Homo sapiens: one gene and its partners. The protein of the gene in region 1 interacts with the protein of each later gene in a pairwise test. Each region holds a gene or a part of one and is shown in the gene's direction. Other genes may lie near its edges.

The links.
Region 2: the proteins of ELAVL4 (region 1) and ZNF436 interact in binary tests that used the Homo sapiens proteins (3 or more experiments, as listed by UniProt).
Region 3: the proteins of ELAVL4 (region 1) and FOXD4L6 interact in binary tests that used the Homo sapiens proteins (3 or more experiments, as listed by UniProt).
Region 4: the proteins of ELAVL4 (region 1) and BEX3 interact in binary tests that used the Homo sapiens proteins (3 or more experiments, as listed by UniProt).

Annotation. Positions count from the first base shown.
Region 1 is NC_000001.11:50,195,903-50,202,932, forward strand, and holds part of ELAVL4 (ELAV-like protein 4), read left to right. Parts: intron 1-1,526; coding exon 1,527-1,565; intron 1,566-4,906; coding exon of another isoform or gene 4,907-4,948; coding exon 4,949-5,276; 3' UTR 5,277-7,030. UniProt on the Homo sapiens protein: RNA-binding protein that is involved in the post-transcriptional regulation of mRNAs. Plays a role in the regulation of mRNA stability, alternative splicing and translation.
Region 2 is NC_000001.11:23,359,837-23,366,866, reverse strand, and holds part of ZNF436 (zinc finger protein 436), read left to right. Parts: intron 1-3,645; coding exon 3,646-4,898; 3' UTR 4,899-7,030. UniProt on the Homo sapiens protein: May be a transcriptional repressor.
Region 3 is NC_000009.12:41,125,916-41,132,879, reverse strand, and holds FOXD4L6 (forkhead box protein D4-like 6), read left to right. Parts: upstream 1-4,198; 5' UTR 4,199-4,496; coding exon 4,497-5,750; 3' UTR 5,751-6,445; downstream 6,446-6,964. Other genes in the region: ZNG1F (zinc-regulated GTPase metalloprotein activator 1F), read left to right, coding at 523-652, 1,040-1,146.
Region 4 is NC_000023.11:103,372,354-103,378,679, forward strand, and holds BEX3 (protein BEX3), read left to right. Parts: upstream 1-4,260; intron 4,261-4,674; 5' UTR 4,675-4,753; exon of another isoform or gene 4,754-5,109; coding exon of another isoform or gene 5,110-5,168; coding exon 5,169-5,474; 3' UTR 5,475-5,811; downstream 5,812-6,326. UniProt on the Homo sapiens protein: May be a signaling adapter molecule involved in NGFR/p75NTR-mediated apoptosis induced by NGF. Plays a role in zinc-triggered neuronal death.

The DNA of each region.
Region 1 (7,030 bases):
TCACTGTGCAAAACTCCCCCCGAGCCTCAGTTTCCATTCCTGTAAAATGAGACAGTTGGAGCAGATGCCCTTCTAAGCCCTCTTCCAATTTACTACTGTGACTGTATAAACTTTAGATTCTTTGGTAGAAACAAAATGTCTGTATTTAACCAAACATGAAGGTTCAGTTTCAACAAGAGTTAATCACAGATCAGTGACCACATTCAGCAGATTAGACTTAAGGCTGGACAGTGGCTTTTAATAAATTCAAAAAATAGACCATAAGGCAGATCCTTGCCAGAAGGAGTTGTTTTTCCTATCTTCTTTTCCCTCGGCAGGTAACTCTGTTGAGTTCAGGGGAGGGGGAAGTGCCTTTGGTGTTAACCTTATTATGTTAAGTCAGTAGATTCTGGGAAGATAGGGAGGAAGATCCTGTCCAAGCCTGATTAGTGTTTCCTTCAAGTACCCAACCCCCAGGAAGCTCCTGGGGCAGGGGGGCATTGCCCTTCTCCTGGGACTTTTCTAAAAGACAGGTTTCTCTCCATGAAGGCAGTATGACCTTGACTGGTCTCTATTATACAAGAGATAAAAATATGTTTGACTTACCCATGATAAATTCTAAACAATTACTTTATTCCACACCACAGCCCAGCTTCCCTTTGATGAAAATGTTTTTCTCTTTGAGAAACTTCACATGGGAAATAGTAGGTCCTTCTATCTAGGATAGTATGCTCCATCTGGCTACATGAGGAGAAAAATCATCCTCTTTCGTGTCCTCCTATGCCCTGTGAATTTGAAATGGTTAATGATTTCATGAAGAGTCCAAGTCATCTAATTTTTATTTTGCTTGAGAGCACATGCAGTATTTATGTAAAAAGCCTCTCCAGCAGACTTCTAATGGTGGAAACTATCGTTACTACTGCCCTATGGTGTGAATAGCTTGTCCCCAAGTAAGGTAGTGAATGTGAGGAAGATTATAGCGTAATGGCAGTTTGCTGGGAGGTGCTATCAGGCAGTAAACAGTAAGCCACTTTTTAAAAATCTTAACCTGCAAACTCCCCCTGCCTCCCAAAAATGTGTGTAGTAAGATGATTTAGTTAATGTAGCAAGGCTAACAGAAAAGATCTGTTCTGATACATATTGTGTGCCTGTGTATTGTTAATCTGGAACAGAGACCTTTATTTACAAGTTTAATTATAGTAAAAAGGTGAACAATTTAAGAAGCCCCCGCTTTGAACAATTTCACTACAATATAAAACAAAATCCACACAAATGTTCTGAGAGGTGGGGGGAATGGTATTAATTCAGACCTTGAAAGAAAGGGAGACTCATTAGACACTTGCTTTAAACTCTAGCAATGACCTGAACATGAATTACTTGCAGTTAGAGACAGAAAAGGGGGAAACTACCGGTGGATAGACTCCTAAGCAGTGGGGAAAGTTGTTGAGCTTTTCTTCTTTGAAAATGGAGCATTCTTATTAATAGTTCCATTGAGCGATCTTGCCATCTGTGAGGCATTAACCCAGAGACCCTCCTTCTCTTTGCAGGCTGGACAATTTGCTTAATATGGCCTATGGCGTAAAGAGGTAATTAAAACTCCACAGATTGCCAGATGTCCATGTTGGCACAGACTGGGGCTAGAATTTTTTTTTTTTAATTCACTAACTTTACTTTAAAAGAAAAAAATTCTTCCTTTTTCTTCCACCAGCATGTCAAATTCTTAATTTTAATTTCGGACCTCAGTTGATTTTGTTTCTTTTAGGGCACACAAAATGTATTTGTGTGTTTCACTTTTTCTTTTATTTGCAGGTGGGCTTCTCCTATGGTTCAGGTGCCACAGCTACCAAGCCCTTAATAATCTGGTCCTTTGAATGGCTCCCCTAAGGGGAAAGGCTCCGACTCTTTGCTGGCTGGTTTTGCAAACTTGCAGAGCAAACTGTTTTGCATTAGCAATGCCAAGATTCAGTTAAGAGGGCAGATTCCAGCAAATCAGAATTAGAACATTTTGCTAATTGTGGTTGACAATCTTATGATTTTTCAGTAGAAAAATTAGATTTTGGACTACCAGCTCTGGCCAAAGGATAAACAAACACGTGGATGACTTTCTAACTCCTGCCCCCACTTCAGTGTGCATTTCAGAGCACATCCTGAGAATGAAGTGTATCTGTGTGCACCTCAACCAGGGGTTTCTTTTGTTACAGGTTTTAACAGTTCTTATAAATCCTCCCTTGGTTATATGTTATGTGTGTTTTAAACTTGCTGTTCCTGTCACTGAAAGGCTTTTTGTGGGGTTGGGGGCCCAGAGTCAAGGCTTTTGGGGCTCTCTGAATGCAGATTCAAAGTTTTCCAGACCCAGTATGAAATCTGAATCTTGGAAAGTTGGGTGTGTGATGTCACTGTGTCCATGAGATTCCCATATGTGCTTCTGATAAGCTCCACTGCACTGCTAGGGACATAGTGTCTTCATCATCTTGCTCAGTAGAGCTGCACACTTTAATTCCCCTTCCTACAGTCAAGGGAAAGAGATGTAGTCTTTAATAGTCCACATCACACCCCCAGTTCTTTCACTGGCCATCCATGGTAAGTACCCTGACTCTGGGAACTGGTGCATGGTAGAGGAAGTAACCTGACTGCAGACTTCACTATCAGAGGACCGGCCTTTCAAATCTCAATCCCAGCATCAATGAGGATAACTATGAATTATCTCCACATTTCCAGCACACTGTTTGCCTGTTCCCAGGGATTTTACATCTTTCCTAGCTCTATCTCATTCCTTTGCTCCTCTCTGATGTTAGTGAGGTAGTGCTAAATGTTGTGAAAAGAGAAATGCTTATAAATAGATAAGATAGGGGAAGACACAGCTGTAGTAGGCCTGCCACCACCTCCTCCACTGCCCCACCCAGAGTAAACATCACTAGCTGATAATAGCATTCTCTTTTCCTATTGAACCCAGATTTGGATTTAGAACGCTTCCTACCAAAATGCTGCAATTAACTGTCACCAACTAGGATAGAGGCTGTACTTGCAATCTCTTTGCTGGCCCTGACCTTTGACTTATAATAAATACTTAGCTGTTTTCTACCTATAAACAGAAAGAGGTCAGTTCACCAGGGTCAACTCACTTGGTTGGAGGATAGAATATTAAAAAGACAATCTTCAGAAATGATACAAGTTACAAATAGACATGGATTTGCACGTCTAAGGATCTACACCATGATATTTTTTGGCTTTTTCTTGTTAATTGTTTTTAAACAAGAGGGAAGATTGACTTAGTGAATAATAGCAAAAATATTGTCTATTGAGTTGTTATATTTAGCATATATTCAGTAGCCATTTGATTATCCAAATTCTAGTTAGATACAGAACTATTCTTTAATAGGACTTTCAAATCTCCAAGAATATTTGCTTATTTTTAAAAACAGTTGTAGCTCACACTTTACACCATGCTCTTCCCTAGTTTTTGCTTTCTCTCCTTTTCCTATCTCCCCCAGTAAAACCCTGGCCAAATGAAAAGCAAGAAACTATTCAGTGTATAGCATCAAAAATCCGTATATAAGCTCATGCCTGTAATCCCACCATTTTGGGAGGCCAAGGTGGGTGGATCACCTGAGGTCAGAAGTTCAAGACCAGCCTGGCCAACATGGCAAAACCCCGTCTCTACTAAAAATACAAAAAAATTAGTCAGGCATGGTGGTGCGTGCCTGTAGTCTCAGCTACTCAGGAGGCTGAGGCAGGAGAATCACTTGAACCCGGGAGGCAGAGGTTACAATGAGCCAAGATAACGCCACTGCACTCCAGCCTGGGTGACAGAGTGAGACTCCATCTCAAAAAAAAAAGAAAGAAAGAAAGAAAGAAAAAAAAAGAAAAAAGTCCCTATGTAAGTTTGATATGAAACAAAACATTAACAAATATTGTTCTGCTATAGGCACTGGTAACCTAATTGTTTCATCTGGTACATCCCTCACAAATTACACAAGGATTTATTTCATCAGACAGTGAATAGAATTTAAAGGGTCATTTTTTCTTTTCAGGATTGCACAAAAACTGAGAAGATTTCTAAACCTAATACAAAAGCAGTTGTAATAGGGCAAATAACAATTCTATGCTTTTCTAATGTATAGCGATTCAAGATATATAAATGCACAAACCACTTGCAGTCTTGCTTCAGTGATACTTAGGAATAAATTCCAGATAACATAGCATAAAGGAGTAATACATCTTTATTATTATTGCTTGAGTTTGTGGGGGAAACCCTTTTGAATAAATGCTAAATGAAACATGAACCACCCATCTGTTTAATAGCAAGAAAGGCCTGTTCATTGTCACGTATCTCCATCCTCACCAAGAAACATTTGACAACCGTAGGTCAAGGGAGTGCAAAAATGGTAGACTTAAGCACTTTAGGGCCATCTCCTAATCTGCCTTTAAAAAAAAAAACAATGAAATTTCCCAAGCACTGGCCAAAGTGAGTCACTTATTCAACCAATAAATATTTATTGAGCATTTTCTATGTGTCACTATATCTGTGAGATTCCCATATGTGCTCCACTGAATAAACAAATAGAGCCACAGAATGAATGAAATAGACCCTTTCCTCCAAGAGCACATTGTCTATTGTTGGGGTGGGGTGGAGTCGGGGTGGGGTGGAGTCAGGTTGGGGTGCGCTATGAGCATATACTGTGATAGAACTGTTACAGAGCCTTGCTCTGGGAGCCCTGGGAGTCCCTTATGGTTTTTAGAAATTGACCTAGGTCTTTCTCTCAGCATGAACATGCCCTAGCCAGTCAAGCCATTCCCATCAGAGGAAATGACATAGACATTAGTTTTTACATTTTGGTTTTTGAACCCTGAAGACTCTCCTGTAAACACTCACTCAGCCCTCTGCCCCATGTCTGTGTCTGTGCATCTGTGTGTTATCCTTGGTCAGACTGATGTCTGGACCAGTCCCCCCTTCTGCTTGTCCCCCCAGGTTCTCCCCAATTACCATTGATGGAATGACAAGCCTTGTGGGAATGAACATCCCTGGTCACACAGGAACTGGGTGGTGCATCTTTGTCTACAACCTGTCCCCCGATTCCGATGAGAGTGTCCTCTGGCAGCTCTTTGGCCCCTTTGGAGCAGTGAACAACGTAAAGGTGATTCGTGACTTCAACACCAACAAGTGCAAGGGATTCGGCTTTGTCACCATGACCAACTATGATGAGGCGGCCATGGCCATCGCCAGCCTCAACGGGTACCGCCTGGGAGACAGAGTGTTGCAAGTTTCCTTTAAAACCAACAAAGCCCACAAGTCCTGAATTTCCCATTCTTACTTACTAAAATATATATAGAAATATATACGAACAAAACACACGCGCGCACACACACACATACACGAAAGAGAGAGAAACAAACTTTTCAAGGCTTATATTCAACCATGGACTTTATAAGCCAGTGTTGCCTAAGTATTAAAACATTGGATTATCCTGAGGTGTACCAGGAAAGGATTTTATAATGCTTAGAAAAAAAGAAAAAAAAAAAACAAAAAATACCTTTGATGCATTGAATGTTCTTTCATAGCTGTCGTTGTTGAATATAATATACATAGATAGCGATGTGCAGGGATTTTTACCCAGCCAGCTAACTTTACTACCTTCCTTGAAGGTGGATCTTTTTAAGATGACCATTCGCTCATTTGAAGAAGAAAAACAAAAAACAAAAAAAATAATAAAAATAAAACAATTTTTACAAAGTAATGGGATTCAAAGAAAGGAAAAAAAGATTTTTCTTTTTTGTCAAAATATCGATCCAATCAGATTGGTAAAAACCCCCACACAAATTAAAGAGGAATAATAAAAATTGCAAAAATAAAAAAAAACTTTTGCAAATTTTTTTATTTTTCCTTCTTTCTTTTATATCATGTGAACTAAAACAGTCTTCTGTTAGGGGATGGGGGCAAGGGGGATACCTGATGACATTAACAATTTAATAACATTAACATTGTTGCCAAAGAGGTGGTCTCTTTGCTGAAAATGGGTTTCAAGAAAAATCTATTTTTATAAAATATAAAGAATTTTTACAAGAGAATCTGGATTTGAGAAAAAAATATTTTGACTGGCTAATTTAGGGGAAATTGACAACTTTGTCGCGTTCATACTGCACTGGTAACTTTTTAGAGATCAAGATGTGTGTTTTAAACTGGATTCGTAGACTGTTTTTTGAAGGATGGGCTATAAACAGATGATCTTCATATCTTTTCATAGCATGTAATAATAATTAAAAAACAATTATTAATTACTAGGGGAAAGGAGTGTTCGTTCTACCCAGGGTACCACAGTTCCCCACAGTCAAAACCCAAAAGCAAGGAGATGAGTTGAAAGACAGTTTTTCTTTAAGTCATCAGTATGGGATGTCAGCAGAACAAAAATTAAAAAGATTAATTTTCCTTTTGATCTAAAACTTCCTTAGTTTGAGCAGTAGGTGCTACAAAATTATTTACATATCTTAGTATCATAGTTAAATGTAATGTGTTTAGGAGAGGAAAACAAAAGATACATTTGCTTTAAATTCATTAAGAAATTTTCAAATTCACTTTGTAGCCCATGCTGATAGAATTGGGCTGTGTTGGTACATTTGAAACACTGTTTATGTTGCTTGAAACACTTATTTATTTAATCGCCGATGTGATGATGCCTATGGCCGAGATCAAATATAGCTAGATTGGCTAGACTACTTATTTGTTTACTTAAACTATGGGAAGAAGCATATTATTGTGTCATTCTGTTGTGTGTGTATGTGTATATACAATATAAATATATATATATAAAGTTATTTTTTCTTTGGGTTAATTTATTATAAGTTGTAACACTTGGCTAGTTTTGTTTGTATATGTCTTAAAATGTTTTCTTATGATATTTAAGTGACAGTTAAAGAGGTATCAAGGTAACTTGTGTAGAACTATTCTTTGATATATTGTCATGTTTGTTGTGAATATTTTTTCTTACTGCACAGTAGAAAAATAAAAACAACTGAGTCTTTATTTTAATGTAACTCAGATTGGGGAAAACAAAAC
Region 2 (7,030 bases), about 27 Mb from region 1:
AAAAAGAAAAAAACTGCTTCTGCACGTCTTAGACGTTCAGATTTCTTGTGCCCTGAGTCATTTTCCAATCTCCAGCCTGTTTGTACAGATCACTGACCAAACAGGTCTGGCATAATAGTGCTTGCCAGAATATAAATGCCCCGTAACTAGTGCTTTTACTCTAGGGTGCTAAAAGATGAGGGGATTCTAACCCAGGTTCATGGGAGGGCGAAAGCCACCTTTTTGTGTTTGTTTTGGCTTCAGAGCCCTAGCTTTGCCTCAAGTTCCTTAGCTGAGTAGATTCTCATCTAGAGATGTTTCAGTGTTGATGATGATAGATTTGTAGTGTGTCAAATGCTGTTCCAGAAGAATGCTGAAATAGATCACAAATTCTATTAGAGAGGGCAGCTGATTTTTTTTTCATGGTCTGCAAGCCTGTCTTCTCTCTTTGCTGTACTTTGGTCTGGGTGTAACTAGAATAAAGAGTATATTCTTGAGCTGAACGGTCTTTTGACTCACTTTGCCTCACTTTGCCTCCTGTCAAGACTTGACAGACATTAGCAAGCGTGTATGGGTCACTAGGTCATTTGCCATTCATTAGGATTAATCCTGTTTTTGAAATCTTTATTCCCATAGCCTTTTTCAGAACAAAAGGCAACTCTGAGGGCTTTCCTTTTTAACTTGAGCTTTCTCTGATGTCCCTAGTTTCTTGAATCCTTTCTTTATAAAAGTAACCATAAATAGTTATCTATCCAGATCTATTGCAGTCTGTAACCCAAATATTCCACTGAATCCAACAAAAGCAAAAAATGACAATCTTTAAAAAATGTGAATTTACAATTCTACAGTTTAGCCCCAAAAGCACTTGTTAGAAGGATGAAAGCGCCAAAAAACTGGTTTCTTGCCCAAATAAGTTTGGGAATGGGAATGGGTTTAAAAATGATTACAAGGCTTTTTTTTTTTTTTTTTTGAGACAGGATCTTGTTCTGTTGCCCAGGCTGGAGTGCAGTGGCACGATCACAACTCATTGCAGCCTTGACTTCCCAGGCCCAGGTCATCCTCCCATCTCAGCTTCCTGAGTAGCTGGGATCACAGATGCGTACCACCTTGCCCGGCTAATTCTTTTTATTTTTTAAAAAATTTTAAATTAATTAATTAATTAATTAATTTTTTTGAAACAGAGTCTCAGTCTGTTGCCCAGACTGGAGTGCAGTGGCCCAATCTTGGCTCACTGCAACCTCTGCCTCCTGAGTTCAAGCAATTCTCCTGCCTCAGCCTCCCGACTAGCTGTGATTACAGGTGCATGCCACCACGCTCAGCTAATTTTTGTATTTTTAGTGGAGACGGGGTTTCACCATGTTGGTCAGGCTGGTCTTGAACTCCTGACCTCAAGTGATCCGCCCACCTCGGCCTCCCAAAGTGCTAGGAATACAGGTGTCAGGCACCATGCTCAGCTTCTTTTTATTTTTTTATTATTTATTTATTTTTTTGTGAGATGGAGTCTTGCTCTGTTGCCCAGGCTGGAGTGCAGTGGCGCGATCTCAGCTCACTGCAAGCTCTGCCTCCCAGGTTCACGCCATTCTCCTGCCTTAGCCTCCTGAGTAGCTGGGACTACAGGTGCCCGCCACCACACTCGGCTAGTTTTTGCGTTTTTTTTTTTTAGAGATGGGGTTTCACCGTGTTAGCCAGGATGGTCTCGATCTCCTGACCTCGTGATCTGCCCACCTCGGCCTCCCAAAGTGCTGGGATTATAGACGTGAGCCACCGCGCCCGGCCTGCCTCTTTTTATTTTTAATAGAAGTGAGACCTCCCTATGTTGCACAGGCTGGTCTCAAACTCCTAGGCTCAAGTGATCCTCCTGCATCAGCCTCCCAAAGTGCTGGGATTAGAGGCCTGAGCTACTGCATCTGGCCTTATAAGGCCTTTTTACCTCAGGATTCCTTAGAACCTTTAATGTGTTATTAGGCATTGTGAATTTTGAAGGAAATGATATTGTATGTACCATTTACCAACCCAGTTTATCCATGAACCCTTTTCTCCCAAAATACATACTTTCTTTCTGAAGAGTGTACTAAGAAACCCAATTTGGAGAATGCAGTGTCTGGTATAAAACTCCTTGTAGACAGTGGTTGTGTATTTTGATTTTCATTTGAAGACTGCATGTGAAATATACTTAGACAATGCCAAGAATGTTCTCAGCCAGACATCTTTTTTGCCTTCTTCAACTTTCCCACTCCTATTTTCATTAAAAGGTCACTGAAAAGTAGGAAGTGACATTTGTCAGTCACTTTTCTGTCAACTATGACATAGGTAAAGATTCATTTTTCTCCATATTAACATAGTTGGTTCTGGCCAGGCACGGTGGCTCACGCCTGTAATCCTAGCAGTTTGGGAGGCTGAGGCGGGCAGATCACCTGAGATCAGGAGTTCAAGACCCGCCTGGCCAACATGGTAAAACCTGTCTCTACTAAAAATACAAGAAAATAGCTGGATGTGGTGGCGGGCACCTGTAATCCCAGCTACTCGGAAAGATGAGGCAGGAGAATCGCTTGAACCCAGGAGGCAGAGGTTACAGTGAGCGGAGATTGCGCCATTGCACTCCGGCCTGGGCAACAAGAGTGAAATTCCATCTCAAAAAACAAAACAAAACAAACAAACAAACAAAAACATAGTGGCTTCTTAGTAAATATTTTATGATGCTACTAATGATGAAGGCTTGGCAAGTTAAAAAATACATACTCACAAAATACCTAGAATCTTGCCTTTTAGATATTCTAATTTAGAGTCTCATATTTTCTGCTTCCAGTGTTCTTTCAAAACACGAATATATATAGTTTTTTTTTTAAGAGACAGGGTCTCGTTCTGTCACCCATATTGGTGTGCGGTGGCACAATCACAGCTTATTGCAGCCTTGAACTCCTGGGCTCAAGTGATCCTCTTACCTCAGCCTCCTGAGTAGCTGGGACTACAGTTGCATGCCACCACATCCACCTAATTTTTTAAATTTTTTTGTAGAGATGGGTTCTCCCTATATTGCCCAGGCTGGTCTTGAACTCCTGGCCTTAAGTGTTCCTCCTGACTTGGCCTCCTAAAGTGTTAGGATTACATGCGTGAGCCACGGCACCTGGCCTGTATAGTTTTCTTAATGAATCATTAATTACAGCGATACAGAATGTGAATTTTGACAGACCTGAGTTTGAATACTGGCTCTACCATTTACTATGGCCTTGAGCAAGTCAATTCACTTGTCTGGGTCTTGGATTTCTCATTAATGAAGTAGAAATAATCACAATTCCTGACTCTCAGAATAGCTGTGATAAAGAATATATGTGACGAAGAATATAAATAATTTAGGCTGGCCACAGTGGCTCAGAAGTTCAATACCAGCCTGACCAATATAGTGAAACCCTGTGTCTACTAAAAATAAAAAAATTAGCCGGGCATGGTGGCGTGCACCTGTAGTCCCAGCTACTCAGGAGGCTGAGACAGGAGAATTGCTTGAACCCAGGAGGCAGAGGTTGCAGTGAGCCAAGATCACACCACTGCACTCCAGCCAAGGCAACACAGTGAGACTCTGTCTAAAAAAAAAAAAAATTTAGTATAGTGCCTGGCACACAATAGGTAATTTTTGTACTTACTAGTCTTATTGTTTACTTTTTATTACAGATTTTGAGATCAGGAGTGAGAACGAGGTAAATCCCAAGCAAGAGATTAGTGAAGATGTACAATTTGGGACTACATCTGAAAGACCTGCTGAGAATGCTGAGGAAAATCCTGAAAGTGAAGAGGGCTTTGAAAGCGGAGATAGGTCAGAAAGACAATGGGGAGATTTAACAGCAGAAGAGTGGGTAAGCTATCCTCTCCAACCAGTCACTGATCTACTTGTCCACAAAGAAGTCCACACAGGCATCCGCTATCATATATGTTCTCATTGTGGAAAGGCCTTCAGTCAGATCTCAGACCTTAATCGACATCAGAAGACCCACACTGGAGACAGACCCTATAAATGTTATGAATGTGGAAAAGGCTTCAGTCGCAGCTCACACCTTATTCAGCATCAAAGAACACATACTGGGGAGAGGCCTTATGACTGTAACGAGTGTGGGAAAAGTTTTGGAAGAAGTTCTCACCTGATTCAGCATCAGACAATCCACACTGGAGAGAAGCCTCACAAATGTAATGAGTGTGGAAAAAGTTTCTGCCGTCTCTCTCACCTAATCCAACACCAAAGGACCCACAGTGGTGAGAAACCCTATGAGTGTGAGGAGTGTGGGAAAAGCTTCAGCCGGAGCTCTCACCTAGCTCAGCACCAGAGGACCCACACGGGTGAGAAACCTTATGAATGTAACGAATGTGGCCGAGGCTTCAGTGAGAGATCTGATCTCATCAAACACTATCGAGTCCACACAGGGGAGAGGCCCTACAAGTGTGATGAGTGTGGGAAGAATTTCAGTCAGAACTCCGACCTTGTGCGTCATCGCAGAGCCCACACGGGAGAGAAGCCATACCACTGTAACGAATGTGGGGAAAATTTCAGCCGCATCTCACACTTGGTTCAGCACCAGAGAACTCACACTGGAGAGAAGCCATATGAATGCAATGCTTGTGGGAAAAGCTTCAGCCGGAGCTCTCATCTCATCACACACCAGAAAATTCACACTGGAGAGAAGCCTTATGAGTGTAATGAGTGTTGGCGAAGCTTTGGTGAAAGGTCAGATCTAATTAAACATCAGAGAACCCACACAGGGGAGAAGCCCTACGAGTGTGTGCAGTGTGGGAAAGGTTTCACCCAGAGCTCCAACCTCATCACACATCAAAGAGTTCACACGGGAGAGAAACCTTATGAATGTACCGAATGTGAGAAGAGTTTCAGCAGGAGCTCAGCTCTTATTAAACATAAGAGAGTTCATACGGACTAAGCTGTAATTATGATGGCTGAGAAATGATTCATTTGAAGATACAATTTTATTTGATATCAATGAACGCCCTCAAGACTGAGCTGCTTTTATCATACTCTCCTAGTTGTGGGCCACGATTTAAACCATCAGAGATGACAAGCCATTTGAAATTCTGACCCTCAGCTTTGGGAATGTTATCTCCTCCAAAATGGTGATTTTTATTCACTCAATGGGTTACTTCATTAAAAGCAGCCCCACAAGTAACTGGAAATCTGAAGACCAGGGGACAAATGCTGGTGAATGCTTAGGCCTGGAAATGGAGTAAATCTTTCAATGTTATTTTCTCCCATCCTTGGCCCAAGGAACTATGCTAAGTGAAACGTGGGACTGTAATAGGGTGGTAATGGCTGCTTTGGAAAAAGGCAACTAGAGACTCTGCCTAAATTGCCACACCTATTCACACACCATAGTAGTTGGGCACACACATCTTCCCTTCCAAAGGGCTTTTTCCTTGAGTTGCTCATGCATTTGTATCTTTTCCATCTTCCTGAGGGCAAGATTTTGCACGATGAAGGCAATGATTGTAACTTTTCTCCTTCTCATTGTTTCTAATTAGCTCCTTTAAAGCTTGCATCTTTGTGAAGGCTAACTGAAGATACGGTTGGAAAGGAAAAATGAGACACAGGTTTGGGGACCAAGGACCCATCAATGATGGTGACTTTAGCAGAAGATGCCCACAGTTATTACTGCCATTAATCAGATTTATGAATTTTCTTTGGGGATCACTATAGGGAATATTGTATAGAAAATATCTTCAAGAAAAGATAGGACCATCAGTGACAGTTAAGTGTAAGGAGCAAGTGGAATTGAGTCCTTCAGGGAAGGAACCACAGAGTCCCTTCCCAAGGAATGTAGGTCGTTTCTGTGTTCTTTCCCTTCTAATCTTTAAGATCAACTCTTCCTATCCTGCTAACTCTAAGATTTGATAAGGGCCACATCCCAGTGTTTATCTTAGCTTGCATCAGGGCATGTGTATGTACAGTAATGTGTATTCCTGTGGTTTTTCTAATAGAAACTGAATTTACAGAGACTTAGCATGTTCTTGGGTGATGTGAGTCATGTGACAGAAGTACAGACATAACTCCAATGTGAGAAATGTCCTTTTTTCATTATGGAAAATAATTTAAACACTAGTGCTTTAGTGTGCACTCTCCTGTAAGGTCTGTCTTTGTACAGAGCTAAGCACTTGTTTGTATGTGTTTGTCAATTGTGGAAGATAATGACCAGACAAATAGGTCGATTGTCCTATTCTCAGAATGAATTATCTTCTATGGTAATGAAGAACTCTTTGGCTTAGTCAGAAGGAATTAACGAACCTCGGTAGGAATGTATTTCCATCCTCCCACCCTACAGATATAAGAGGTTAAAATAACAGTTCGCCCAATTTAAGCCCAGTAGTGTCAGTTTTCCTAATCTCAGTCCAGGTAGGAATTAAGAAATATCTCAAGTGTTGATGCTATCCAAGCATGTTGGGGTGGAAGGGAATTGGTGCCCAGAAAATGGGACTGGAGTGAGGAATATCTTTTCTTTTGAGAGTACCCCCAGTTTATTTCTACTGTGCTTTATTGCTACTGTTCTTTATTGTGAATGTTGTAACATTTTAAAAATGTTTTGCCATAGCTTTTTAGGACTTGGTGTTAAAGGAGCCAGTGGTCTCTCTGGGTGGGTACTATAATGAGTTATTGTGACCCACAGCTGTGTGGGACCACATCACTTGTTAATAACACAACCTTTAAAGTAACCCATCTTCCAGGGGGGTTCCTTCATGTTGCCACTCCTTTTTAAGGACAAACTCAGGCAAGGAGCATGTTTTTTTGTTATTTACAAAATCTAGCAGACTGTGGGTATCCATATTTTAATTGTCGGGTGACACATGTTCTTGGTAACTAAACTCAAATATGTCTTTTCTCATATATGTTGCTGATGGTTTTAATAAATGTCAAAGTTCTCCTGTTGCTTCTGTGAGCCACTATGGGTATCAGCTTGGGAGTGGCCATAGATGACCGCATTTCCATGACCTAACTGTATTTCACCCCCTTTTCCTTCCCTACTGTTCTTGCCCCACCCCAACCAGTTCCTGCTGCTGCTTTTGG
Region 3 (6,964 bases), on another chromosome or scaffold:
ATACACAATGAGCTCATATTCAGATAAATTGAGCTCATATCCAGATAAATATAATAGTTTTTCTTTATTTCAACATTGTTCATTGATTGCAACCCATTTCTAAAACAAATTATTTAATATAACCAAACTCCTTTAACTTCTCAACTTTTCCCACTAAAACTGTGAAACATTATATAAAATCTTTAATCAATAGGATATGATACATATTTCATCATTTTGTTTCAGGTTTTGGTTGTGATAAATAACACTGAAAAACCATCCTAATATATGTATTAACTTTATCATTAGAAAAGGGGATTGTTCAAAAAAAAAATCAATACACAGAAACCTTTTTTGAAAATTAAAAACATTAAGAAACTTCTTGTAATTCACAAATAATTGGAATTAAGTAATTTTCTCAGCTTAAGAGTTTGTATTTTTTAAGTGAATATCAGTAATTAATCCATTAACATTGATGCTCTATTTCTGCTTTTAAGTTTGAACTGAGGCTGATTAATGTTCAGTCAATTCTCCTTTGAGCAGGGATTGGTGTCAATCAAAGACAAATCACAACAAGTGATTGTCCAGGGTGTCCATGAGCTCTGTGATCTGGAGGAGACTCCAGTGAGCTGGAAGGATGACACTGAGAGAACAAATCGATTGGTCCTCATTGGTAAGTCTCAAAGGATTCACAGTTTTGAAACAAAGTGAAAAATATATTTGAAAGGGATATCATGTGCCACTTAAACAGATTAACCATTCAGGTCCTCTTTTAAAACTAAATAAGCTTGTGGTCAATGTTTCATCTTTGTCACGTTACAATGTTCGTAAAAGCTTGTTAGGACTTTTGTTCTTCTTCAATTTTAGAAAAGTGGTTAATCCAAGGACCAATGTGACTTTGATGTACTGACCTGGAAAGTTAAAGATGGAATCACTCAATTACTATTCTTTTTGTAAATTTTTAAACACCATAAAGCATTTAATGAACTGGAATTGATAGGTGAACTGTGTCATTTTAATAAGCATAATGTAATCACGTCATATTTTGTTTTGTTTGCAGGCAGAAATTTAGATAAGGATATCCTTAAACAGCTGTTTATAGCTACTGTGACAGAAACAGAAAAGCAGTGGACAACACATTTCAAAGAAGATCAAGTTTGTACATAACACTAGAGGCATTTCTTATCAAAAGGATTGGATAATAAAAATAAGTTTCTACTGGGTATATTTCAAGCATTTATTTATTACTTTAGTTACGAATTCCAATATACTTTAAAATGGTATTTGTTTTACAGCATACATAAAATGTAGCAAATCAGTACTGTAAAACATTTAACATTCATACAATTATATACAATATCCTTTTTTTTAAAGAATGGTATTTCACAAAAATATCTTTTGAAATTGGCTTTGGAGTTTACATATACTGAACATGAAAGTTTATAATAATGATGATACAACTTTCAACATTGTCATTTTTTCTTAGAACTTCAGCTGATTGCAGAGATATAATGATTACATTGTTATTAAATTTTTTTAACACAAGTAAGTGTCACCATTTTATGACATGAAATAAAAGGTTATGACTGTTATTGATGTTGATGTTGACGACCTGATCACCTGGCTGAAGGAGTGTTTGTCAGGTTTCTGCATTGTAAAGTTACTCTTCTCCCCCATTTCATACTGTGCTCTTTGGAAGGAAATCACTATGCACAGCCCACACTAAAGGAATGGGGAGTTGTAGTGTACTTTCTTGGGAGTGGTCTACATAATTAATTGAAATTCTTCTGCAAGGGACAGTTGTCCCTTTCGCTTTATTAGTTCGATCATTTATGTTTATCAGTGTGGACACATGAATATTTTATACTTTGGGTTACAATTTAATACTACTTTATTTTGTTGCTCAAATTATCCCAGCTTTGACCATTGGGAACTCTTTCCGTTATCTCCTGTTCCCCCCTTTGACATACCCCCATCAGTGTGGGTTTTGTGTTTTGTTTTTGAGCGCCTCCTTATTTTTCTCCTGTATTTTTAAATAACCCCAATCCCTATTGAAGCTGGCTCTAGGAAAACTAATACTCCCTTTCCCAGGTCATCCGATTCCTATGCTGATGGAGGAAATTTGCCTCACATGCTGGGGGGCGCTGGGGAGGAGGCGTCTGGGATTATGTGGTTGAATAAGACACCTGGCCTGGCCCTCCTGGAGCTTAGTTTAGTAGGTCACACAAGCAGTCATTGGTAAATTTGGGATTCAAACAAATCTGTTAGGCTCAAACCTGTCTGTTATTTGTCCTCCAAGCTTCATATAAACTGAGGAGCCTTAAAGGGTAAAAACTTCAGGAGCAGCAAAGTTTCAAAAAAAGATCAGCAAGAAAGCTCTTTTCCAGATTTTATCCTGAAGGCACTAGCTACTTTAAGCTATTTTTTATTATATTTTGCCCTTGCAGTTGGCGTTTGATTTCTCACTGAACATTCATTGTCATAATTATAGACACTATGTGACTATCAAGGGCATAATATTCTTTCATGCTGCATTTTTATTAGATGGCACCTCAAAGTTTTCCCAAGTAGGTGGGTTTTAAATTATGAATATATACCGTGGCATAGTATCTTACTTAGTATTTTAATAAGATTCTTATTTATATAACAAATTTTTTTTATTCCTCTGTAGTGCTACTTTAGTCTCTGAGCTAATTTTCATGAAGCCAATCTAAAAATCGTGTTACTTCTAAGGATGTGGAGGGAGTGAGATGAACAGTTGTGCTGTCATATTGCCCCTCCCCAGTGCAGATAGTGAATGAGGACCCACTGATTTAAAGGCAACACTGCAGCCCCTTCTTGCCTCATTGAAGTCCCAAGTTTTATTACAGTAAAAGCACTTAATGTTGACATTTCTGAAAGAATGAAGAGGCTGGGCATGGCGGCTCACGCCGGTAATCCCAGCACTTTAGGAGGCTGAGGCAAGCGGATCATGAGGTCAGGACATCGAGACCATCCTGGCTAACACGGTGAAACCCCGTCTCTACTAAAAATATTAGCCAGGCGTGGTGGCGAGCGCCTGTAGTCCCATCTACTTGGGAGGCTGAGGCAGGAGAATGGCGTGAACCCAGGAGGCGGAGCTTGCAGTGAGCTGAGATCGCCCCACTGCACTCCAGCCTGGGCGACAGAGCGACTCCGTCTCAAAAAAAAAAAAAGAAAAAAAAAAAAAAGAATGAAGAGCCAGAGCCAGGCATAGTGGCACGCCTGTAGTCCCACCTACTCAGGAGGCTGAGGCGGGAGGATCACTTGAGCCCAGGAATTCAAAGCCAGCCTGCGCAACATAGACCCTGTCTCTAAAAATGAATTGGTTATAAAGGATGAAGAAAGGAAGGAGGAAAGGGAGAGAGAGAAGCCCTTATAGAGTGGGTGCATTTCTTGTATGTGGGGCCACTTTGTAAGAACAGGATTTTTCAAACTGGGCCCATACTGGTATGTGTGAAATCAATTTAGTTGGTTATGGCCATTTTTTTTTAAAAGGAAATATCAGTGATCACTATAGTGTAAGTATATTGTTTCGTGAAACCCATCTTAGTTATGTATTATGTCTGTATGTGTGAGATTGTGATATAAAATGTATTTCTGTGGTTAAATATTCAAAGAAATTGGAGAACCATTGCTACAAGGGGACAGAGGACTCCGTGTGAGCTCTCCTGCCTTCCCTGAGTAAACTTACACAATTTAGTGCTGGGACATTTGAGCCTTTTCTGAAAATTTGAGTCAGGGAGAGCATCTTGAGGAGGTGGGAAGGAAGGTAGAAGGAGCAAAGCAACACCCCCCTGAAGCCTGGGAATATTGTCAGAACCTTAAATATAATTCAGCTCACCATTCTGGGTAAGGGCAGACTCTACCAATGAAAATGGGTGATTACCAGCTGTGAAACACAAAAACATACTTTTACGGTTACACATTCCTTTACAAACAACCGTGTACATTTCAGCCTCCTGCCCCACCATTTCTTTTCTCCAGGCGGGAAGGCTGCATGTTGAGGTGGTCATAGAATGTTGAGTATCATACTTTCCTACCTCGCTTTTATTTGCGCGGGTTTAAATGCGCCTTAACAGAACCCGTGCAAAGGCTTGCCAACTGTCTGGCTGCACCGGATGAGTAGAGCATCTTCCTTGGTGGCAGGTGGGTGCGAGGAGGAGGGGGCTGGGCTTTTCTCCGGACGGGTGTTTGCCCAGAAGACCATCATCCCTGGACTACGTTAGGAGGAAGTGGCACCGCTCCGAGGTAGGGGAAGAAGGGTTATAAAGGGGGGAGTCCACCACACATGGTCTTGAAGAAGCTTTTATAAAAGGCAAAGGCATCTTTGCCGGACGTTGTTGCAAAGGAGTAGAAACAAGCAGACGAAAACATCCCAAAGGGTAACCACTAGCGTTCCTGCTTCTTGCAACATTCATCCCAGGCTTCCAGCTCAGCCCGCCCCAGGCTAGGTGATCGGTCGCCACATCCCCTGCGACTGAAGCACCTGCTCCTCCATGAACCTGCCAAGAGCTGAGCGCCTTCGCTCCACACCGCAGCGCAGCCTCCGGGACTCCGATGGGGAAGACGGTAAAATCGATGTCCTGGGAGAGGAGGAAGATGAAGACGAGGTGGAAGACGAGGAGGAGGCGGCGAGCCAGCAGTTCCTAGAGCAGTCGCTCCAGCCGGGGCTGCAGGTGGCCCGGTGGGGCGGGGTTGCGCTTCCCCGAGAGCACATCGAGGGCGGCGGCGGCCCGAGCGACCCCTCAGAGTTTGGCACCAAGTTCAGGGCACCGCCAAGGTCTGCGGCGGCCTCTGAAGATGCCCGGCAGCCGGCAAAGCCCCCCTACTCGTACATCGCGCTCATCACCATGGCCATCCTGCAAAACCCGCACAAGCGCCTCACGCTCAGCGGCATCTGCGCCTTCATTAGTGGCCGCTTCCCCTACTACCGCCGCAAGTTCCCCGCCTGGCAGAACAGCATCCGCCACAACCTCTCGCTGAACGACTGCTTCGTTAAGATCCCCCGCGAGCCGGGCCACCCAGGCAAGGGCAACTACTGGAGCCTGGACCCCGCCTCCCAAGACATGTTCGACAATGGCAGCTTTCTCCGGCGTAGGAAGCGTTTCAAGCGCCACCAACTGACCCCGGGAGCCCACCTGCCCCACCCCTTCCCTCTACCTGCTGCACACGCCGCCCTGCACAACCCCCACCCAGGCCCTCTGCTTGGGGCCCCTGCCCCGCCGCAGCCAGTCCCGGGGGCCTACCCCAACACCGCCCCCGGGAGACGCCCTTACGCTCTGCTGCACCCGCATCCTCTTCGCTACCTACTGCTCTCGGCCCCCGTCTATGCCGGGGCACCGAAGAAAGCAGAAGGCGCGGCCCTGGCGACCCCGGCACCCTTCCCGTGCTGCAGCCCTCACTTGGTCCTCAGCCTTGGGAGGAGGGCAAGGGTCTGGCGTCGCCACCGGGAGGCGGATGCATCTCTTTCAGCATTGAGAGTATTATGCAAGGGGTCAGGGGAGCGGGTACAGGGGCTGCGCAGAGTTTGTCCCCGACCGCGTGGAGCTACTGCCACCTGCTCCAGCGACCATCAAGCCTGTTGCATCCCCAGACCGCTGCCCCTTTGCTGCAAGTGTCCGCCGCCGCCGCTGCTCGGACAATTTTGCAGCAATAGCAGCAGCATCAGGAGGAGGACTGCGCCAACGGCTGCGCTCCCACCAAGGGCGCGGTGCTGGGCGGGCACCTGTCGGCCTCGTCGGCCCTGCTGAGGTATCAGGCAGTGGCAGAGGGCTCTAGGCTGACATCGCTGGCTGCCCCTTTGGGCGGAGAGGGGACCTCACCAGTTTTTTTAGTATCGCCCACGCCCAGTTCCCTGGCCAACTCCGCAGGGCCCTCCTAGAGCCAGGTGGGAGTGGGGAGCGACCCGCAGCTGCTCACTTCACCTTGCGCGGCCCATTCAGGGCGTGTGCATCTGAATCCCGCTGGAGAGCAAACACGAACTTCTGTTCGCTGCAAAATGGTTAGAAAGAAACAGCTGGATTACGTTCCTCTAAAAACCACCTGAACGTAACCTTCGCAGGGCGTCAAGTCATCTTTTCTTGCCTTCGGTTGTGGCTTCTATGGCTGTCCCGATTTGCGCATTTCCTGGGGTACTATGAACGTGAGTGGGGTATTTTGTTCTGGCATTAAAAGAAAAACAAGCAAGCAAACAAAAACACAGCCTCCGATGCCAAACATGTTCCCCCTTCTTCACTTCCTTGGAGCTGGAAGTATTATTCCTAAGTCTAGTGCAAAATGCTTCTACTCTCTGTGTCTTCCTGATAGGGATGTTTAATGTAAGTAGGATATTAATTTCAGAACATTGATTTCTTATCTGTGTGTCTGACGTGCCATCTTTAATGTTAAAATTAAGGTGTTAAAATTAAGCCTAGTTATATAGACGAAATAAAATGCTAAGTCACTACACTACATCGTTTATTTTCTATTACATCTCATTCTTCCCTTTCTAAATGGAACTTTTTAAAACCTACGTTACTTTCCCTCAAACAATTTATTTTCACAATTCATATTTATTATAGATAGCAGAAGTAATCCATTTTAATATGGCCTTTAAAAATTCCAAATATTTGAGGTTGAAAATGTCCTGGCTTTTAAAATAGGAAATTTACTATTTATGAGACTTCTAAAAGAAAAGAATAGGAGGGCATGTAAATATATTCTCCATTTATTTTTCATCACCCCTCAACAAGCTGGAAAACCATTTGAGATCAATTTGGAATGTAGTGGCCAACATGTACTCAGAGAAAATAAAAGGCTATAAATTATATATATATATATATATTTTAAGCACTAGAATTTTCAAAACTTATTTCTTAAAAAAAAAACAACTCTGAAAAGACTTTGCAACTAGAAAGGTTTAAGTGTTACTCGGCGTCAGGGGACGGAGTGGGGGGAAACCAGACAAGAACGCCCATCATGAATT
Region 4 (6,326 bases), on another chromosome or scaffold:
CTTTTATTTTTTCAGACTAGATCTCTTGAATTAAATATATTATCTCCCAAATCATTGAAACTCTTACAGTGACACCCTTAAAATTTCATCAGATTCATTCCACATTTTGGAAATCTTGGCATCAAAGTTATAATGGCCATAGCTTAGAGGAAAGCTGGAGTAGGCATAATTTCCTATATTCTTAACACCTAGTTTCAGTCTGTAATCGGTGCTTAAATTTAGAGAGAAAGAGAGAATCACAATAAAAAAGTATCAGTAAAGCATCAGAGAGGTACATAGAGAACCTATTCTAGGCAGGAACAGAGATACTCATACCCACAGGGCCCACTAGGGCTCAGACTACCTTCTCCCAAGCCTAGCATTTACACAGGAGAGATAATGAGAGGAAAACAGGACAATAACCACAGTCCAACCAGGTGCATTTCAGACAAGTACATGTGAGCCATGTCATGGCAATACACATAAAGATTTCAGCAAAAACGAGCTTCCACTGATGGGATACTAATACAATAGAGGGATCTTCACTAGTTGAGGTCAAATCATGAAACAGTTTTATTTTTCCAATAGCTGTATCAGCAGTGTTCTTTCTATCACTCCCTCCCCCACTTCGCATGGGGCAATGGGCTTCTTTAACTACATTTCTGTCCAGTTCTCCAACTTTTCAGTCACTACTGCTTATTAAAATAGTTTCAGTCAGACTAAAGATTTGGTTCTATTCATTTTCAAATGCCAATCTCACTTTTCATTCTGAGTCCTCCTGGTGCCTCCAGGGCAGATTAGAATTGAGGCTCCTGGGCTTGAAACATGTGTAAAACGTGTGTGTGGGGATAAGAACCATCTAATCAGTTCACCTTCTCTCTGCCTTTTGGGACACATGAATCCCAAATGCAGAATATAGTGTCCTTCTAACTTGGCCTTGAAAAAATTTGTTTTTGTTCTCAACAGTGTGCTGTCTATTTCCAACTCCTCAGAAAACTTCAGGGTCAAGAAAACATCTCAATCAACTCCTATTCACAACATTTTAGTAAAGATAACAGCATTTCCCGGATAATTTTCACCTATCTTTAAAACATTACTTTATTACAACTAATCAATATAGCATAATATCCAATCTGGATGTTACAAACAAATGTCTGTTTTCATCCAAGGAAATTTGATGGTTTTGAACACAGGATTTATCCAAGATGGGTGAAAAGGAAAACAGCAAAGCATTTAGCCACCAAAAGAAATAAAAATCCACTTGCTAAACTTCATATCCAATAGTCACATCACAGTGGCTTCTCAGCTTTCAGGAGATTTTTTTCTAGGTAATTCTTAATTTTCATAAAAGCTTTTCCGTATTGCTCTAAATACAGTCCCCAGAATGAAAAACAACCTATTCGCCTCAGTACTGGATACATTCATTCAACAAGTATTCAGTAATCACCTACTTGGTGCAAGGAACACTATTAGTCACTGGGTACACAAAATAGAACACAGCAAGCATGTTTTGGGCCCTCATGGATTTTAAGAACAAGTGGGTCTAGCTAAGGAAAGAATCATACTCTGCTACTCTTTAAATCATGTTAGAAACCATCGAATAACAATAAAAATAATGTCAACAAAAATTGATGATTTACTAGGCTATGTAGTAAATTATTGTTATGTGTAATTCTAACAATCCTTGTTTCACAGAGGAAGCACACAGACCTTGATAAGTAATTGATCCAAAGTTGAACATCAAGTAAACAGCTGACTGAATTTGAAGCCAGACTTGTCTGATACTACTGTTCATGCTTTGAAACTGCATCATTCCAGCTGATATCATTAATATAGCAATCTGTATAAAAAGTTCTTAACTGTGAGACAGAATCCAGGAATCACTAACATTTCTTTAAAAGACAAATATTGAGTGTGATTTTATAATTTGATGTTTTGGAGCTATGTACTAATATATCCATATACCTCTAGAAGAATATATATGTAATTTTATATGGAATACATATCTCCAAAACGTCTAACTACATACACACTGGGCATATACTCTTCCTTTATTCACTGTGTCATCTGGTTTAGCAGGGTAGGAAATTCTACAGGAGTTTGGGGCCAAAACTAGAGTTAGTAAGCATTTGTCTGGCTTGTCTTGCCTCAGTGCTGCATTTAATGCTTTTGGTTCCTTATCATAAACAACAGATATCAAATATTTTTTATAACAATGCCACTTTTCTAAAGACATCTCTATTTTCTAGCTGTGATAATTTTTTTAAAAATGATTTCAAGTTGGAGAAAGGAACATTTGCACTCAGGATAAGGTTCAGTCTCAAGTTAAGTTGTTTCACACACCCCCTGCTTATTTCTAATATATTTTGAAACATTCGCACCAAAGGGTAGATGGTTTTGAAACTACTTTCTGCATAATATGTACTTAACTTCTGAGCTCATACTAAGAAGATATTTGTAGGGATGGTTTGAAAGGTTTGGAAAGGAAAGCAGGGAATAAAAGACTCCCTTTCTCTGATGACTGTGATATCAAAAACATCAAAGTTACATAAAATGGTGAAGATCTGACGACCAGACTGCTCCCTGAAGATTCACTTTACAGATCATTTCGAAAACACCAACTGTGTTCAGAAAGAGTCCCGCCTTTCAGGCGCCTGTAGTCCCAGCTACTCCGGAGGCTGAAGCAGGAGAATGGCATGAACCCTGGAGGCGGAGCTTGCAGTGAGCCGAGATCGCGCCACTGACTCCAGCCTGGGCGACAGAGCGAGACTCCGTCTCGGGGGAAAAAAAAAAAAGAAAAAGAAAGAGTCCCGCCTTTTTATATATTTTTTTCTTTTCTTTTTTTTTTTTTTGGAGACGGAGTCTCGCTCTGCCGCCTAGACTGAAGTGCAGTGGTGCGACGCGGCTCACTGCAACCTCTGCCTCCCGGGTTCAACGATTCTCCTGCCTCAGCCTCCCGAGTAGCTGGGACTACAGGCACGTGCCACCACGCCTGGCTAATTTTTTTGTATTTTTAGTAGAGACGGAGTTTCACCGTATTAGCCAGGATGGTCTCGATCTCCTGACCTCGTGATCCGCCCGCCTCGGCCTCCCAAAGTGCTGGGATTACAGGCGTGAGCCACCATGCCCGGCCAAAAATAAAATTTTAAACGAGCTAGTATGTATCAAAAGTAATGGCTTGATGTTGTGTGGAGCCCAGAAAAAATATTTTGTGTGGTACAGGTCAACATAAACAATGAGAGATTTCATTGTGCAGGATAAAGCATTTCCTTTTTTTTTTTTTTTTTTTTTTTTTTTTTTGACAGGGTCTTGCTCTGTCGCCCAGGCTGGAGTGCAGTGGTGCGATCCCGGCTCACTGCAACCTCCGCCTCCCAGGTTCAAGCGATTCTCCTGCCTCAGCCCCCCGAGTAGCTGGGATTACAGGCGCACGCCACCACGCCCAGCTAATTTTTGTATTTTTAGTAGAGATGGGGTCTCACCATGTTGGCCAGGCTGGTCTCACACTACTGGCCTCAAGTGATCCACCCGCCTCGGCCTCCCAAAGTGCTGGGATTACAGGTACGCCACCGCGCCCAACCAGCATTTCTTTCAAAATTAAAAACTTATAATTTATAATTTTCTGAAGCATGCAGATTTTTTAAGGAAATAAAAAGAAATATATACAGTCCACTCCACTTCCTTGCCCCGCTTTCTGACAAATGCCCTCCTGCCTCCCCACCTTAGCCCTCACTCTAAATTTTCTAGAAGGGTAGGAATTCAGGGGCTACGTGGGCATTGATGGCTGTGCACACGCAAGGGGTAGAAGTGGGAGTGCAGCGCAAAGCATGTTGCCAGGTAGAAAAGGAGAGAAAGCAGAAAAGGCCAAAGCCAAGGCCTGAAGTGAGAGGGGGCAGTGGTGGAGGATGATGCAGACCCTCCCTGGTAACCAGAGGAGGGCAAACTCCAACCGCAGAGCAGTGATGCCACTTGTGGGCCCTCAGATTGGAGAGGACCGAGAAGAGTGACAGGGCTGTGCGCTCTGGGGCACCTCATGCAGACGGGAGTAGGGAGGCTGTTTTTTGCGCGTGCATATGGCGGTGGCGGGTGGGGGGAAGGGGGAGATCCTGCTGCACTGGCCGCCCAAGTTGGGGGGCGAGCTCGGTGGTGACGCGCGGCCCTCACGTGACCCAGAGCTGCAGAGCGACGCAGCCTTCGGTGCAGTCGTCACTCGCGTCTGGCTACCAGCTCCCCGCTGCCCTGAGCTCGGCGGGCTGGCATTCGGCCCGGGGAAAAGCGGAGCAGGTAAGGGCTCCGGGGCCCGTGAGCCCCGGCCATGCCAGCAGCGGCTGACCGACCTCGGCGACAGGCGCAGAACAGCGCAGGGGGTCCCCGCCAGCTTTCTCCACACCCCAACATGCTTGGGAACACAGAGGCCCCCAGGGATGGGGAAGCAGGGGCGGCTGGGTTTCCAGGGGCGGCAGAGCCACCAAGAGCGATGGAAACCCACCCCCGAGTCCCTGCAGGAAAACAGCGAACACCGCGGGGGGCTGGGCGTTCGAGGGTGGGGTGGGGGTGGGGGGCGGGAGACGCGGGGCGCTGGCAGCGAGGGGAGCCCGGGCTCGGAGCACGGAAAGGGCCGGGCGGCGGCGGGTCTTCGCTAGCGTTCCGCTGCAGCAGCCCCCACCCCCCACAACCCCCACCCCGGCTCGACTGCAGGTCTGCGAGGCTAAGTGTCTCCGCGGCGCACCTCGCGGCGAGAATCCGGAGGAGAAGGAGACTGCAAGGATAGGCCCAGGTCGGTGCGAGGGACGGTGGTGGGGCGGGGGTCGGAACGTAAGGAAAGCCCAGTCTGAGACCCCAACCCCCTCCACCCCATCCCCCACTCCTATACCGGTCCTCCATTTTGGTGCCTGCAAAGCTCTGGGAAAGAATCCCGGGAAACGAAAAATGGTGGGTTTGGGGGAAGGGAGGTAAGGGGAGAAAGCTGGAGGGAGGGGCTTTAATTGGAGGCCCCGTAGAGGACGCGCGGAACTTCTAAGGTGGGAAAAAACGAAATTAAAAAATCCTTTGATATCAGGGCTCTGAATCCTGCTGGTCAGAGCACCAAGCATTCAGTCTCTCTCCTTGCCTTTGTCTTACTTGTGTTCAAAGAAAAACAACCAGAAAAAAAAAATCTCATCATGGCAAATATTCACCAGGAAAACGAAGAGATGGAGCAGCCTATGCAGAATGGAGAGGAAGACCGCCCTTTGGGAGGAGGTGAAGGCCACCAGCCTGCAGGAAATCGACGGGGACAGGCTCGCCGACTTGCCCCTAATTTTCGATGGGCCATACCCAATAGGCAGATCAATGATGGGATGGGTGGAGATGGAGATGATATGGAAATATTCATGGAGGAGATGAGAGAAATCAGAAGAAAACTTAGGGAGCTGCAGTTGAGGAATTGTCTGCGTATCCTTATGGGGGAGCTCTCTAATCACCATGACCATCATGATGAATTTTGCCTTATGCCTTGACTCCTGCCATTTATCATGAGATTAATACTGTGATTCCCGCTGTTTTCTTTTTCCTTGCATTTTCCTAATATGCCTTTACTGATCCGTTTGCTGTGAACCCTATGTTATTTCCATGTGTCAAGTGGGTCTTGTGTTGCCAGCTTCTATTTGAAGATTGCCTTTGCACTCAGTGTAAGTTTCTGTCAGCAGTAGTTTCACCCATTTGCATGGAAAAATTTAAAGCTAATAAAGCAATTTAAAAAGCAATCTATACATTTATTGTCTCATTAAAAATGTATACTTACATATAACAGATGAACTAAAAAAAAATCTGAGATTAAATACACTAGAGTGTTAATTGGTGAACATTTCTGTGTGTTAACTAATCCCAGCACTTTGGGAGGCTAAGGTAGGCAGATCACGAGGTCAGGAGATCGAGACCATCCTGGCTAACACGGTGAAACCCTGTCTCTACTGAAAAAAAAATACAAAAAATTAGCCGGTCGTGATGGCACACGCCTGTAATCCCAGCTACTCGGGAGGCTGAGGCAGGAGAATGGCTTGAACCCGGAAGGCGGAGGTTGCAGTGAGCCGAGATCACGCCACTGCACTCCAGCCTGGACGACAGAGCCAGACAGTCTCAAAAAAAAAAAAGTAATATGTGACATTTTTTTCCTTTTATTATCTGGAGTTTGAGAAGCAATGAAAATTATTTTTCAATGAGATTATGAATGTAGTGCAGATACGTAACAATACTGGCTCAACAAATTTGAAGAGTAAACTCTAACTATCCTTCAGTCTTAACTGGAATAATAAACCTTCCCTTTATTACAGATGCATTCCTTTAAAGAGCCCGTTTTCTGCTCTGTGAAA